4 linked regions of the Homo sapiens genome follow. The protein of the gene in region 4 purifies or fractionates together with the protein of the main gene of each other region. This does not show direct contact. Each region holds a gene or a part of one and is shown on either strand. Other genes may lie near its edges.

Region 1 (4,152 bases), on a different chromosome or scaffold from region 4:
CCAAGCTAAAATAATCTTCCAATTGTTTGTATGTATGACAAAAGGTTTTTTAGAACTCTATGTCACTAATAACAGATTGATTAAACAGATACACAAACATGTCCACATGTGTTACCTCTGTTAAAAATTATGGGAGATGTTACATATATATAATGTTAATATGGGGTGTGTGTGTGGCTTTTTTGTTTTTTGGGTTTTTTTAGAGATGAGGTCTCAAACTTCTGGCTTCAGGCAATCTGCCGCCTCAGCCTCCCAAAGTGCTGGGATGACAGAAGCCACCATGCCTGGCCCAGGAGAGGTCACTGTTTTGGACTGAGCCCCTGCACTAGGCCCCAGGATGAGACCAAACCAAAATGCAGCCACTCATGCCATATGCCACTTGATCAAACTAAAACTTTAAAGAAGGAGGTGCATCTCAAACAGACCAGCTTTTCCTGCGATCAGAAGATTCCAGTCTTCCTGAGTCAGAATAATAAGGAAGTCGCTTCTGCTTTAACCCTTAGGAAAAAAGTAACCTAATGTAACTTGACGTTAACCAATCAGCTTTTCTACCTATTGTTCTGTTTCTTTGTTGCCGCCCTACAAAACCCACTGTTGTGCTATTACCCTATCGAGCTCTTATTCTATTTTGTAGAACGGAGGTTGCCCTATTCACAAATCAAGAATAAAAGCTAATTAGATCTTTAACTAAATTTGTTGTAATTTTGTCTTCCAACAGCACTGATCCAGAATGGATATTAAGAAAGCATATAGGCCGGGTGCGGTGGTTCGTGTCTATAATGCCAGCACTTTGGGAGGCCGAAGTGGGTGGATCACCTGAGGTCAGCAGTTCAAGATCAGCCTGACCAACATGGAGAAACCCTGTCTCTACTAAAAATACAAAATTAGCCCGGCATGGTGCTGTGCACCTTGTAATCCCAGCTACTCGGGAGGCTGACACATGAGAATGGCTTGAACTCGGGAAGATGAGGTTGCGGTGAGCCGAGATCATGCCACTGCACTCCAGCCTGGGCAAAAAGAGCAAAAAAAAAAAAGAAAGGAAGAATATAAAAACACACAGGACATTAAAACCACAGAGTAAACATGATTTAATTTTGATAGCCCTGACTCAGAGCAGAACTAGACGGTAGGAAAAACTATGTTTGAGCCCATGTAATAATCTAAAAGATGTCTATTAAAATAAATCTTATTTTATTCTTTGAATACATTAAGAAGCTGACCTGTAATCTCACTCTTGTTCTTGTTCTTAAAACCGTCAAATGCACAATGAAACTCCCCAAGTGTATTAATTTGAACCCTCTGGTTGTTTGGATTGTGGATAAACATAATAAGTCAAAATTTATTCTCCTCTCATTAATGGAAAACTATAAACCACTTGATTGCTTTGAAGAAGTACCCTCCAGCAAGGTAAGTGTTAAACCTTATCCTAGGAAAAGACAAATACTATGTAAACATTAACATGCATGCCCTGTTTCGCACTGGTATGCCAATTGTCACTTCCCTCTTCTGTTATTTAGGATAGAACAAGATGATATCCAAATAGATTATGCTGGAATATTCTATAATCCTTTCCCAAGGGAAAAAGTGTGGTGTCCAGGTAACCCTGTGTATTTCATTTAAATCACATGAATGAAGATTAGATCCAGTCACCCCTCAGCCTATCCCTGAGGCCTACCCTGGCCCTCTCTTTTGCAGTAAACCTTTGTTACTGCAAAACCATTTGCAAATAAACAAGGTGAGCGGATCTGGACTGGTGCTGTGCAAGCAACGGGACACCGGTGCAAAGCCTAGCCCCGCCTTGCAAAGCTAGCGTTACAGAGGCAGGGCTGACACCGGGCCCAGCCGGGACCCAAGCCAGCTCCACCGCCCACTGGAGACGCCCCCACCCCACCACCGAGCGCTACCCCCCGGGGATCCCCGACAGACCGCGGCAGGACCCCGCCTCGATCTGCTGGCGCCCGGTCCCTCCCCCAGGACACTTTCAAGCGGAGTCCCCCTTCCTCCGATAGAAGAAACCCCTGGGCCTTTGACCGAGGTTAGCCAGGCAGGCAGGGCGTCGGACAAGCCCAACGAGCCCACGAACTCGCAGCCCGCCTCCGGCGAATCTTGCAGCCCTGCCGGCCGACCCTTCAGGTCGCTGCCAATCCCGGAGCTGCGCGTGCGCAGCGAGTCCCGGCTGCGAGGCCCCTGACTCGCCAACTCTGCTGCTGAGCATGCGCAGCACACCCCAGGCAACAGAAACGGACCGCCGACCCCCACCAGCCCCGCTGCTGAGCATGCGCAGCCCACCCCAGGCGCCGGAAGCCGACCGCCAACCCCGTAAACTTCGCTGCTGAGCATGCGCAGCACACCACAGGCGCTGGGGGCTGACCGCCGACCCCTCAACGCCGCTGCTGAGCATGCGCAGCACACCCAGGCGCCGCGCAGGAGGCCCTGACCACCCAGCCCCACTGCTGAGCATGCGCAGCCCACCCCAGGCACCGGGAGCCGCCACGAACCCCCAAATCCCGCTGCTGAGCATGCGCAGCATGCCGCGGCTCCCAGGCCGCTGCCCGGCACCTGGAGGAGGCTGGGCTGTGCGCGGCGTTTGGGGGTCGGCGTCGCCCGCACGCTCTGCGAGGCTTGGGCTCGCGTACCTTCCAGTAGAGCACCCCGAGCCGCCGCAGCTGCTCCAGGCCCACTGGGCGGCCGGGGTCGGGGCGGTGGGGTTGCCGCGGGTCGCCCGGGGCGTCGTCCATATACCAGGCCTGCACCATGACGCGCAGTGCGGGTGCCGTGTTCGAACCCAGGGGCCGCGCTCGGAGCCCGTCGGCCGCGCTTTATCTTATAGGGAGGCGTGGACGCGCATGGGAGCCGGGATTGGGCGGCTGGTTGGAGGCAGGGCCGGCGCGGGGGAGGCCCCACGGCTCCGCTGTTTTCGGAAGCAAAGGCATTCAAGCCCCGACCCTGTCCTGGGCACCCTCGGACCTGCCTGAGGCCCGCGGCCCGGGGCCAGCCGTTCGCCAGACGCGCCGGGCAGGTGAAGCTCACCGTAGGCATCGCACGTGCCTTGTGTGTGCTGCCGCGGTCTCCCTGCACCTTCAGAGCAATCTTGTGAGGCAAACGACGTTAAACGTGTTTAGAGTATGGAAAGCAAATGCAAAAAAAAAAAAAAAAGAATAAGGATTTTGTTAAGCTCATGCAGTCCATATGGGCACAGTTGAGACTTCACAGCTCGGATCCCAGGTGAGACATTGTCCTCCACCTCCCCGCTCGCCAGACTTTTGCAGTGTCGGCATTCTGCAGTGCTACCCTGTACTTTTTAAACTTCCTCTTGTTTCCTCTTTTCATCGTTTCTCCCTTCCCCATACACTGTAATGTGCTAGTCTTAGAATAAAAACAAGCTTCCCCTATCCCATTCTGAATTTTTCAATGTAGCTAATAAAGTCCAGCCGCTTGACCATCCTAGATGTCTTTTCAAACCAACGAGTTGAAAAAGATCAGATTATCTCAGCCATTCCCTCAGTCTCTTTAACAAATAACGATAAAGCAGACAGGATTTAAATGAGACTGCTGTAAGAGCACAACCCCAATGCATGCAATTGACTCTTGAACTTCCAGAAATATTGCAAGAAAAATACACACTTATTTCATTTCTGTTCCCTTGCTCTAATGGCTTTGCAAATACATCCTCCTTAGAGAGCCTACCTCTCCACCTCTTCACTTGACCAGTTACTACTCATCCTTCAAGAACACACCTTAGACGCCATTGCCCATTTTTCTGCAGCACTCATGACAAACCTTCATGCAAGAATCTAATGGCAATCTCGCACCTCGCATTTTCTCCTTAAGCCACTGCAATAAGGCTTCGCTTCTCACCACTGGGGAACTGCTAATGACTGCCATATTGCCAGATCCAATCATGGCACTTCTGTTCTTACCAGCAACATTCGTCACAGTTGCCCACGCCCTTCTTGAAACATTTTCTCATTTTCCTTCATGAGGGCATCTTGGCTGCTCCTTCCCAGGCCCCTCCTAGCTCCTGCTCCTCTAACCACTGGTTAGTGGAGCGTTCCAGACTCTCCTCGTCCTGTTCCTATCCACTCACTCCAGGCGACTTTCCATGCTGTGCTGCCGGCTCCTGCAGCCACATCTCCAACCTGGACCTCATTC
Region 2 (4,071 bases), on a different chromosome or scaffold from region 4:
GAATGTCAGGGTCACATTTGGTTAAGCTTTATACACTTTGTCCCCTCCATAAAAGCAAATAAAATCAACTCATTGCTTAATTCCTTTAATAATTTTGTGTTCAATAAAGTAAGGCAGTTAGGTATTATGTCAAGATTAGGACTTAACTGTTTCACCAAGGGTTAAAAACAAAGCCACCAATTTAAGCCCCTAAAAGGTTATAATACCCGCTGGTTCCATCTTAAAATCTGCAATTTTCAATCAACATGTTAACTTGGATCGGAATTCTGACATTTGAATTATTCTATTTTAAGCTCCAAAAAATGGACACGCACAATTTTATGCAACGTCAAGGACCTGTAAATTTAAATACACTTCTCTGTAATCTGGTTCACTTCAGAGTACAAATTCATTGAACAAAAAAATGCCTTCATCGCCATATGCATTCACATGAAGCCACATGGGATAAATGCATTTCCACTTTAAAAAGTATCTACTTTGGTTCAGAAATGCCCATTTAAGAAAAACCTACACTGAGATAAAGTGGACATTTTTCTTTTAAAACTACGTGACAGGATTCCCTCTTGACCTCACGTTTCTCCCCGCCACGTATTTAAATTTGGGGCAAAATTTCTGATTAAATGACTGATCAAAGTAATGGGGAGAATTCTTCAACGCCGGCCAAAAGTGCTTAGTCTCAAACGCTGTGAGGGAGCATTTCCTAAGCTTTGGGCGACTCGTTAACGGAATCTTAAGGGCAAGGTCCAACCACACTCAGAATCAGCAGGAAAATGACCGTTTGGTAAAACTCAATTACACCCAGTAGGCACCTCCCCAGGCCCGAAACAGCACTCGCCCTTTCTGCTCAGCTAGCGCGGGACATCGCAACGCCCAAGGCCCTCCTATCTCAAAGGCGCTTGCGCAAAATCTCCCCACAGACTCAATTAAACCCTTCCTTAGGCCGGTCGAGGCGAATGGTTTTGAAATTACTGTCGGGTTACGCCTCACTTTAAAAAACAGTAGGTATGACACAGCACACCAGAACGACCACTCACCGAGGTGGTCCTAAATTCAAACGACAGATTTAAGCTTCCTCTCGTGATTTATCTCGCGCTGCCGGAAGCGGAACTACCCGGGTCCTTTAGAGGGCAGTCCTTTGGGGAACCTTGGAACCACGGTCAGAAAGGTTAGGACTGATCATTTGGCTCTTGCCGGAAATCGTTCCGCCCGGTGAGGTTTCGGCGTGAGACCCGAGGAGGGCGGGGAAGAGGCGTGACGGAGATTCCTGAGGTGTAGTAGCCTGAGGTTCCCTTATGTGGCCCTATAGCTGTTACTGAAGGAAGTAGCCTACGTCCACGCCTACAACTGAAGTCTCTTGACAAACACCTCACCCCTGCCTCCGGGATGAAAGGGGGTAACCTAGACCTGAATGGGCTTGACCATCTCACAACTGCTCGCGTGACGACCGCATTCGTGGCAGGTGAGGGCCCAAAACCGGAGGAGAACCGGAGATGCGGAACCTGATCATGCCAGGGTTGAGGCGGCTGCTGGGCTTCTGCTTTGTCTCCTGTGCTCTGCAGACCCTAAACACATGCTCCACCGAGGGGCTTGTGCTGGAGAGAATGACAGCCTGGGCGTGGAGTGACAGTACAGCTTTGAGGGTCCTTTCGCGCCTTGATTTCTCCTCCTGCTCCCCCATGGCTTCCCTTTTTCATTTCTTGGGTTCGAGACGCCAGAAATTGAAGATCAGCTAAAAGGGAACCGCTGAGCTTCTACCCCACGCTGTGCCTGGCTCCACTGAAGTGATTAGCCTCGAGTTATGGGACTGCTGTGGGTAGAGGTGGCTTTTTAAAAAATTTTCTGCCTTAGTCTTTATCCCTCTCTCTGTCAACCCCACACCCACTTTAAAATAACAAAAGCCTCATGTGTTGCAGCTTTTCATAGTAGGGACCGAGGCTGCAGGGCACTGCCGCACCTAGTCATTTGGAGGTCGTTGCAGCCTTCTGCGCCTTGAAGAAGAAGGGGCCAGGGTGATGATCCCTGGATCTCATTCACGAGGTTCTTGACCACTTCCTGGGAGATTGCGACTCTTGGTGTCCTTTGGCTAGTAGTTGTCTTGCTGGAAGGCTTAACTGTGGAAGTGGGAAGCATAGCTGACCTTAGCACGTAAAATCCTCGCTCTACACTGGGACAGGATTTTGTTTTGCTATTGAGAATTCTTAAATGAAATAGATAATTTTTTTGTCTCAGATAGATAAAATAATAACGATAGTTGCCATTAACTGAGTCTTATGTGTGCCGAGTGCTTTACATAGTTTGTCATTTATTCCTCTCAACAATTCCAGGAGGTATGTTAGATTATTATCACCATTTTACAGAGTTAGAAATGGAGGCTTTGAACAGTCAAGCAACTTGCTCTATTAAACATTTGTTATAAGTAAACGTTTGAATCTGTGTTAAAAACCAGATCTGTCTGCCTTCAAAATCTGTATTCTATTGTCCTGTCCTGTTCTTCCTCGATTTCAATTTCTTCACTAACATTTTCAGTGTCTGAAAGTATCCATTCATTTAAAAAATTTTGGTGTACCTACTTATATGTCTGACAAAAGTTAGACATGATCTCTGTCTTTATGGAGCATTGTGATGCAGAATTAAGTAGTGCAGAACCCAGAATACTGTACTTACTGCAGCACAGGTTTATTTAAAGCAAATGACTAAACTGATTTGCAGAAAATTTTAAAATCAAAGGTTGCTGTTTTAAATGTTAAATTCATATGACTTTCAGAGTAGTTGTTGTGAGGGTATTAAACTGAACAATTGGTAGAACATCTGTTGATTACCCAAATAAGTGCTATGAACCAAGTTAAGTAGTGGGAATATATAGATTAGGTCCTCATTCTTTAAAAGCTCCCATGCAACCACAATATAGACAATGTTATGGACTATTAATTTTCTCACGTGGAAAAGGAATTGTGGTTATGTAGGAAGGTGTTCTTATTTTTAGCAGATACATACTAACGTACTTAGAGTTGAAGTGTGTTGATATCTAGTACTTTCAAATGGTACAGCAAGTGTATGTGTGTGTATGTGTCTGTGTGTATAAATAGCAAATATGGCAAAATGTTGGCAATTGTGAGTATAATGGTGGGCATATAGATGATTAACAAACTGTTCTTTCAACTTTTCCGAATATTTGAAATTTTTCATAATAAAAAGTTGGGGAGGAAAAAACCCAACCCTGATGGAAACAGATAAGTGAAAAGATAGATCCAAAATGCTGCGGAACATAGAAGATGGGAGAGGGTTTTTATGTGTATTTGGGGCCTAACAGAAGTGTGATAGTTCTCAGGAAAACCTTCACTGAAGACCTTTCAGTTGGTTTTTGAATGGCGGATAGGAACTTTCAAGGAGAGCAGTGAATTCCAGGCAGAAGGAAATGCAGGTTCAGCAAAAAGATATTAAATGAACGTTTGAAGAAGGAAAAAGAAATCAACAAGAAGGTTGTGTGGAACTTGGAATAGGCTTTTTTTGTGTAATCTTATAAATGAGCCAGGTTGCCTTTGCCAGCCTGCAGAAGCCTATTTATTCCCTATTACCTGGATGTACTATTGGTGGAAAGGAGACACCATTTATAACAGTGTTTCCATTGGAAAATGCTTTTGGAATTTCAGGAAAACTGGTTATGTGTTTGCGTTTAGGCTAAGCAGCAGGAGCAGGAGCTCCCATTTCCTCTGATTTTGAGAGCAGAGATTTACTAGTTTATAGTTGGGCTCCTGAGGGAACCCATGAAAAGGGCTACAGTGATGGCTTGGAAATATTAAGTTCAGGTAAGGGGGATCTGAATACTAGGTGGGACTGATGGATGATCCAGGGTGTTATTTTGAGGATCAGGTAGCTCTGGCCGTGACCAGTAAAGGTATGGAAGAGATGATTATCCCAGGCAGTAGTGTTCATGATAGTCTCAAGCAGTGTGGTAAGACTAGAAAAGGTGTAAAGAGGTCTCCAACAACAGCAGTGGCAAACGGGAGTTTCTGTGGCTTCATTAGACAAGAGGTAAGTAGATACATTCTAAATTGAGTTATTTATATTTGT
Region 3 (3,500 bases), on a different chromosome or scaffold from region 4:
AATCACACAGAAGAAGCTGCTTTTTCAATAAACGTGGCCAGCTTCACATCTCTTTTGATCAGTCCACCACAGTTACGTGAGGTGAGAGTTATCTGGACCTTGTTTTATACATTGAACCATTCCGGGTGATGATTCATCTTCTCTGCTTGTAGGGCAACTCGGGACATAAAGCCAAATGCCTGATTAAAAATTTGGACGGAGAGGCCGGGCACGATGGCTCACACCTGTAATCCCAGCACTTTGGGAGGCCAAGGCAGGCAGATCACAAGGTGAAGAGATTGAGACCATCCTGGCCAACATGGTGAAACCCCGTGTCTACTAAAAATGCAAACATTAACCAGCCATGGTGGTGTGCGCCTGTAGTCCCATCTACTCGGGAGGACAAGGCAGGAGAATCGCTTGAACCCCAGAGGCAGAGATTGCAGTGAGCCGAGATCACACCACTGCACTCCAGCCTGGGCGACAGAGTGAGACTCCATCTCAAAAAAAAAAAAAAAATTTGGAAGAAGAATGATTTGTAGATGGCATCTCTCTCTCACTTAATTCTGACCATCCTGCTGCTTTAAGATTGAGTATAGCTTGGTTCCTCTCCTCTGCTGTCTACCTGTGAGCACCTGACAACATGGCCACGAGCCCTGGGCTCCGGCCTCCCAGCGCCGCCAAGCGCCATATCGTCCCACGTTCTCACGTTTTTAAATGGTTGAAAAAAAATTAAAAGAAGAATTTTTCATGACACATGAAAATTATGTGGCATTCCCATTTCAGTGTCTATGAACAATGTTTTATTGGAACACAGCTACACCCGCTCATTTACATATCGTCTATGGCTGCTTTTGAATTCCTACAGCACAGCTGAGCAGTTACAACAGAGACGGCATGATCCGCAAAGCCGAAAATATTTACAGAAAATATTTTCTGCCCTTTAGAGTAAAAGAGCCAATCCCTGCCCTAGACACAGCTGCCTCTACCTCACCATGATTCCCTTACTATGAATACAGAAAATATTCTACACTTCTTTTTTTTTTTTTGAGACAGAGTCTTGCTCTGTCGCCCAGGCCGGAGTGCAGTGGCACGATCTCGGCTCACTGCAAGCTCTGCCTTCCGGGTTCACACCATTCTCCTGCCTCAGCCTCCCAAGTAGCTGGGACTACAGGCGCCCATCACTATGCCTGGCTAATTTTTTCTATTTTTTTTTTTAATACAGATGGGGTTTCACCGTGTTAGCCAGGATGGTCTCGATCTCCTGACCTCGTGATCCACCTGCCTTGGCCTCCCAAAGTGCTGGGATTACAGGCATGAGCCACTGCGCCCGGCCGTTTTGTTTTGTTTTGAGATGGAGTCTCGCTCTGTCGTCAGGCTGGAGTGCAGTGATGTGATCTCAGCTCACTGAAACCTCCGCCTCCCGGGTTCAAGCGATTCTCTGCCTCAGCCTCCTGAGTAGCTGGGATTACAGGCACCCACCACCACACCTGGCTAATTTTGGTATTTTTAGTAGAGACAGGGTTTCACCATCTTGGCCAGGCTGGTCTTGAACTCCTGACCTCGTGATCCGCCTGCCTCGGCCTCCCAAAGTGCTGGGATTACAGGCGTGAGCCACCGCGCCCAGCCTATCCTGCACTTCTAATCAGATCTGACATCACTTCCAACACAGTAACCAAAACCCTCATCAGCTCATCTGTTTTCTTGGGCCCGGAGTCACATAGAAACCAGAAAGCTAGAAAGAGCCGTTTCTCTCACCCAGCCCCAGAGGTGGTCAGCACAGATGGTTGGTGCTCAGGGACAGAACTTGCCCTGCTGGCCTGTAAGCTCCCTCAATAGAGGATTTTACCTGCAAGGACAAGGGTGCTTTTCATCTTTACAGAATAATGATCTCCAGCAGGATGCCAAGACTGCTAAGCTCTGTGTGCCCTGCAGACTCGCACAGAGCTGGTGCTTATGAGGCAGGCGACAGTGTAAGTCTGAGGACAGAACAAAAGAAAAACTTACCTGCATCTGTCCTCTGGGCCATGCAGGAATAGACAGAGGCCTGTAAATCACCCAAGGCCACTCCCACCTGCGTCCCCTTTGGGATTTCAAACCACATGTGGGAAGTTCTGCCCGCCACACTGCCAGGCTCGGCGATGTCTGGGAGCAGGTGGACAGGAAAACCCGAGCTCCTCAGTCTGTAAAACAGAAGTGGACACCCACATGGACCCACAGTTAGGTTTCGGGAATTTAAGGGATCCTTCCTTCCTTCCTCCCTTCCTTCTCTCCATTCCTCCCTCCCTTCTTCCTTTCCTTTCCTCCCTCCCTCCCTTCTCTTTACTCCTTCCCTCTTTCCCTCCCTTCCTTTCCTCCTTCTCTCCATTCCTTCCCTCCCTCCCTCCCTCCCTTCCTTCCTTCCTTCCTTCTTTCTTTCTTTTTTACTTATTTATTTTTTTGAGATGGAGTCTTGCTCTGTTGCCCAGGCTGGAGTGCAGTGGCACCATCTCAGCTCACTGCAACCTCCACCTCCCAGGTTCAAGCAATTCTCCTGCCTCAGCCTCCCTAATAGCTGGGATTACAGGCGCACACCACCATGCCCAGCTAATTTTTGTATTTTTAGTAGAGACGGGGTTTCGCCATCTTGGCCAGGCTGGTCTCGAACTCCTGACCTCACATCGTTCACCCGCTTCAGCCTCCCAAAGTGCTGGGATTACAGGCGCGACCCACCACACCCGGCTCCTTCTTTCTTTTTTTGAGACAGGGTCTAGCTCTGTTACCCAGGCTGGAGTGGAGTGGTGTGATCACTGCTCACTGTAACCTCAACCTCCCAGGCTCAAGCAATTCTCCCACCTCAGCCTCCCAAGCAGCTGGGATTACAGGCCTGCACCACCACACCCAGCTGCTTTCCTTTTTTGTTGTTGTTTGTTTGTTTCCAGGAAACTCTGCATGGGAAAGTGCTATAGGACACACATGGCCGAAGTGGGGATAGAATTCAGTGCCCTCACAGGCAGCTTCTCTGGCTTTTTTAAAACCATGAGCTTAGGCTTTGTCAATAGAGTACACTGGCTTTCATAAGCTTAGGATTCACCTTCCAGGAAAGAAAACAAACAACATAGGCAGCCGTGATCAAGTCCAGCCTCCCATGTTTGAAGGGAGCTCAAAAACTCTGCAAAGGGAGGCAGCCGGAGGTTCGGCGCCATTATGGTTGGTGAGCACAGCCCAAACCAAAGTCAAATGCAGCAGGCTCCTGAATATCAAACGTGTTAGTCACTCAGGGTTAGTGAATGGGAAGCTGTCAACTTCACACAACATGCTGGAAAGTCCTTTACCTGAACTACCAGGTGCTTTTTGTTTTATTTCAGAGCTCAGAATTTGGGCCCTGAAGGAAGTGAACTTACAGGGCACTGGACTTCTGTACCTGAAAAGGCAAATGATTGTTCAAAAAGAACTTAAAAGGCATCCTTCAAGCCTACTATCTCTAGTTCTTTTTTCTTTTTTTTTTTTTTTGAGACAAGAGTCTCGCTCTGTCCCCCAGG
Region 4 (3,500 bases):
AAAGGTGGTCCTCAATGTGGTTAGTTTAACTACCTAACAATAGTAATCAAACATTTAGGCTGGGCGTGGAGGCTCATGCCTGTAATCTCAGCACTTTGGGAGGCTGAGGCCAGCAGATCACTTGAAGTCAGGGGTTTGAGACCAGCCTGGCCAACATGGCGAAACTCCATCTCTATTAAAAATACAAAAAATTAGCCGGGTATGGTGGCACACGCCTGTAGTCCCAGCTACTCAGGAGGCTGAGGCATAAGAATTGCTTGAACCTGGGAGGTGGAGGTTGCAGTGAGCCGAGATCATGCTACTGTACTCCAGCCTGGGTGACAGAGTGAGACTCTATCTCATAAACAAACAAACAAACAAAAAACATTTAGACTGAATCACATCTCTTAAACTGAGTTTCTATATTATCATATAGCAGCTAAACATAGTAAGAGCCAAGCACCATTCTAAACGTGCTATAGCATTCGCAGTATCTCATTCGATCCTCACACAACCCTATTGGGTAGGTATTACTAGGGTCCCTAATTTACAGATGAGGAAGCTATAGCACAAAGAAGTTAAATAACTTGGCCTAGGTGACAAGTAAGTGAAAGCCAGGATTCAAATCCATGCCATCTGGCCCCTGGGCCCATATTCTTACCCCTCTGTTCCTGAGCTGTGCCCTCTCCAGTGAAATCACAGGTTCATTTTGTGCCTTTTTAGCAGACCTCTCACTGGGCCGAGCAGGTCCTTACGAAGTGAACTGACTCAAGTTTAAACTTGTTCTCTTTGCTCTGGCAGGCCACTTGACCGTGCACTGCTCTCCACAGTCAGCTTCACACTAGAGTTATGCATTTTGTCTCAATAAGATAGTGAGTGCTGAAGGAGAGAAACCTAGGCTTTACTCTGGGGTCCCCTCAAAGTACAATCATCTTCCTCATTAATAAATACACACACCCATAGAGTTTATTTAATGCACTATTGTACCAACTGGAGTTTTCTGAAGCTGGCATTCTGAAGCACAGAAATCTGCTGAAGCCCTGAGAAAGAGCTGTGAAATATTCCCACTGCTGGACTAAACAACACATACCTTCAGGATTTTGCAGTTTTCTCCAATTTCATAATTTAAATAAGCACATCTCTCCTACCTCTAATTTTAACTCACAGTTGCTGATTTTATTGCCAAACATTTTAATATTAGCCAACGTTGTTCTTTTACAAACGTTTCTCTAATTTTTACTCCAAAGAACAGCTCTGGCTCCAGCCAGAGCTTTTAAAAACAGTGAAGTAAATTGATTTGTAATTTCTCCTAATGCAAATAAACTAATAAATCCATACTAGTCACTGCTTTTCAAAATGACACTTCAACGATGATTTGTAATACAGTACCTTGAGCTGGAAGTAAAATATGAATCGTCACTGTCATCATTATACTTTTTTCTTGGTTTTGCCATAATGGGTGATTCCTGCTCTATGGTCTGCATATCTGAAGTCACTGAATGTGAAATAACACTTGAGAAAACAGAAAAATATATATATCAGTAAGTTCACAAACTTTTGTTTCACCAAAATAAACAAAGCTTTAATTTATGTTTTGAACAAAGACAAATGTATTCGAGGGGTTAAAAACATAAGCAATAAAACAATTTTTTTTTCTGGTGCAAGCTTTCAAAAATGTTAAAATTTTGTGAGGACTGTGTCTACACCAAATGCAGTCACAAATATTGGTTATGTCCATGGTTTCCTCTCTGGTAGGTGCTTCATGTAAAGAGCCAGACCTTTTTCCTTCTTTTAAAGAGCCAAATTTGAAATTTTTCATGTTATACTGAATACCAGAGCAAAGCAAAAATAATTAGAGAAGTTAATGAATAACAAAAAAAAATCTCTAAAGTTGAAACTAACACAGTCCAAGAAAAATCCACTGATGATTGACACACTGTTTTAAATTCTAACTCCAAGAAAGCAGTCTCACATACCTTCTGCAATTTCCAAATCCCATGCCGAGTCTGTCTGAGTCAACATTTTTTTTGCCACTAATGTTCATCTTTTCGTCTTTCTTCATTTGAATTTCAAGATCCTTATAGGCTAATCGTAATGATGAAACACTGCCAGAAAAACCAAATACTCCTTAATTTAGCTTTAATCCTTTGTTCTTATATTAAAATAGCAAGCAAAATTAAACATGTAATTTATACTTTTAGCTTCATGATTCTTTCCATAATTAACAATTATGAAGGCAAGTTGGTGTTTTTTCTACCTGCCTTTTTTGAACAGACGTTTAAGAAAATTTGAATGAGCTTACAGCCACTTTCTCATTGCTGCTCAACCTATACCACTGTTCAAGTTTAGTTCATGTTACCTATTATTGTATAATAACATAATGTATACCCAAATCACTTCCATATGGGATAGTGAAAAGCAAGATTTCTTACTTGGATTAATATTTTATTACACTTCCACATTACATAACAAAGCATGAGGTTAGTCTCACTAGTCTATCTTGATTTAAGATAAATAAATAAATATATAAATTTGACTTTACAAATAGATCAACTAAGGGGCTATTACTTAATTGTAAAAGGATCCTTCCATTTACAAAATAATTTCTTGTAGATACATCTCTATGCAATCAGGCTTCTGAGAGCATTTAAAATGGGATAGTGACTCATCAGCTAATAGACTCTTTAGCACTACTAGTCAGTCAAATACCACTCTTCTATTTAAAATCAAATATCTGCTACAAGCAGGACACCAAAGGGGTAAAAAGGTGTACAAAACATTGTCCTTGCTCTCAGATTTCTAAAAATGCAATAATGACTTAATTTTTCATAAAGAAAACTATGCCTATATAGCAAGAATAGCAGTTTGCATCATATTTTAGTGAGACAGCACAACATTTCAGGGCCCTGAAAAATGATCTATCTAACTTACAAGGATTTCTAAGTTATCATCCACTTTATAAAAACATGTAAAATACCATGAATTCCTGGCAAAAGAGGCATTGTATAAATTCCTAGTAATATAAATAAATTTCTGCATAGTAATAGGGAAAGACAACAGAATTTCTTTCTGTTTTTTGAAATGGAGTCTTGCTCTGTCGCCCAGGCTGGAGTGCAGTGGTGCAATCTTGGCTCACTGCAACCTCCACCCACGAGGTTCAAGCAATTCTCCTGCCTCAGCCTCCCGAGTAGCTGGGATTACAGGCACCTGCCACCATATCCAGCTAATTTTTCTATTTTTAGTAGAGACGAGGTTTCACCATGTTGGCCAGGCTGGTCTCGAACTCCTGACCTCAGGCGATCTGCCTGCCTCTGCCTCAAAGAGTCCTGGGATTACAGGCATGAGCCACCGCGCCCGGTGCAGAATTTCTTATTAGGAAAAAGTAATCTTGCTTTTGCTGTTTCTTTTCTTTAATGAGTCAAGCAAGATTTCTTTGGTTTTCACATGGCAGTTTGTTTTCCTTACTCTTCCTACAGAACAGGTTATGGCTATTTTATTCCTTAACAAATAAATACTACTTT

Evidence for each region. The genes of interacting proteins can lie anywhere in the genome.
Region 1: the proteins of ARFGAP3 (region 4) and ADI1 fractionate together in Homo sapiens (co-fractionation; one large-scale study listed by BioGRID). This does not show direct contact.
Region 2: the proteins of ARFGAP3 (region 4) and PPIP5K2 purify together in Homo sapiens (affinity purification with mass spectrometry, with the first as the bait; one large-scale study listed by BioGRID). This does not show direct contact.
Region 3: the proteins of ARFGAP3 (region 4) and SHPK purify together in Homo sapiens (affinity purification with mass spectrometry, with the first as the bait; one large-scale study listed by BioGRID). This does not show direct contact.

The regions. Positions count from the first base shown.
Region 1 is NC_000002.12:3,516,732-3,520,883, forward strand, and holds the start of ADI1 (acireductone dioxygenase), read right to left. Parts: upstream 2,801-4,152; 5' UTR 2,757-2,800; coding exon 2,637-2,756; intron 1,017-2,636; exon of another isoform or gene 1-1,016. UniProt on the Homo sapiens protein: Catalyzes 2 different reactions between oxygen and the acireductone 1,2-dihydroxy-3-keto-5-methylthiopentene (DHK-MTPene) depending upon the metal bound in the active site.
Region 2 is NC_000005.10:103,119,030-103,123,100, forward strand, and holds the start of PPIP5K2 (inositol hexakisphosphate and diphosphoinositol-pentakisphosphate kinase 2), read left to right. Parts: upstream 1-1,271; 5' UTR 1,272-1,459; intron 1,460-4,071. UniProt on the Homo sapiens protein: Bifunctional inositol kinase that acts in concert with the IP6K kinases IP6K1, IP6K2 and IP6K3 to synthesize the diphosphate group-containing inositol pyrophosphates diphosphoinositol pentakisphosphate, PP-InsP5, and bis-diphosphoinositol tetrakisphosphate, (PP)2-InsP4.
Region 3 is NC_000017.11:3,619,251-3,622,750, forward strand, and holds part of SHPK (sedoheptulokinase), read right to left. Parts: intron 2,163-3,500; coding exon 1,987-2,162; intron 679-1,986; exon of another isoform or gene 501-678; intron 195-500; exon of another isoform or gene 1-194. UniProt on the Homo sapiens protein: Acts as a modulator of macrophage activation through control of glucose metabolism.
Region 4 is NC_000022.11:42,815,774-42,819,273, forward strand, and holds part of ARFGAP3 (ADP-ribosylation factor GTPase-activating protein 3), read right to left. Parts: intron 2,085-3,500; coding exon 1,956-2,084; intron 1,492-1,955; coding exon 1,369-1,491; intron 1-1,368.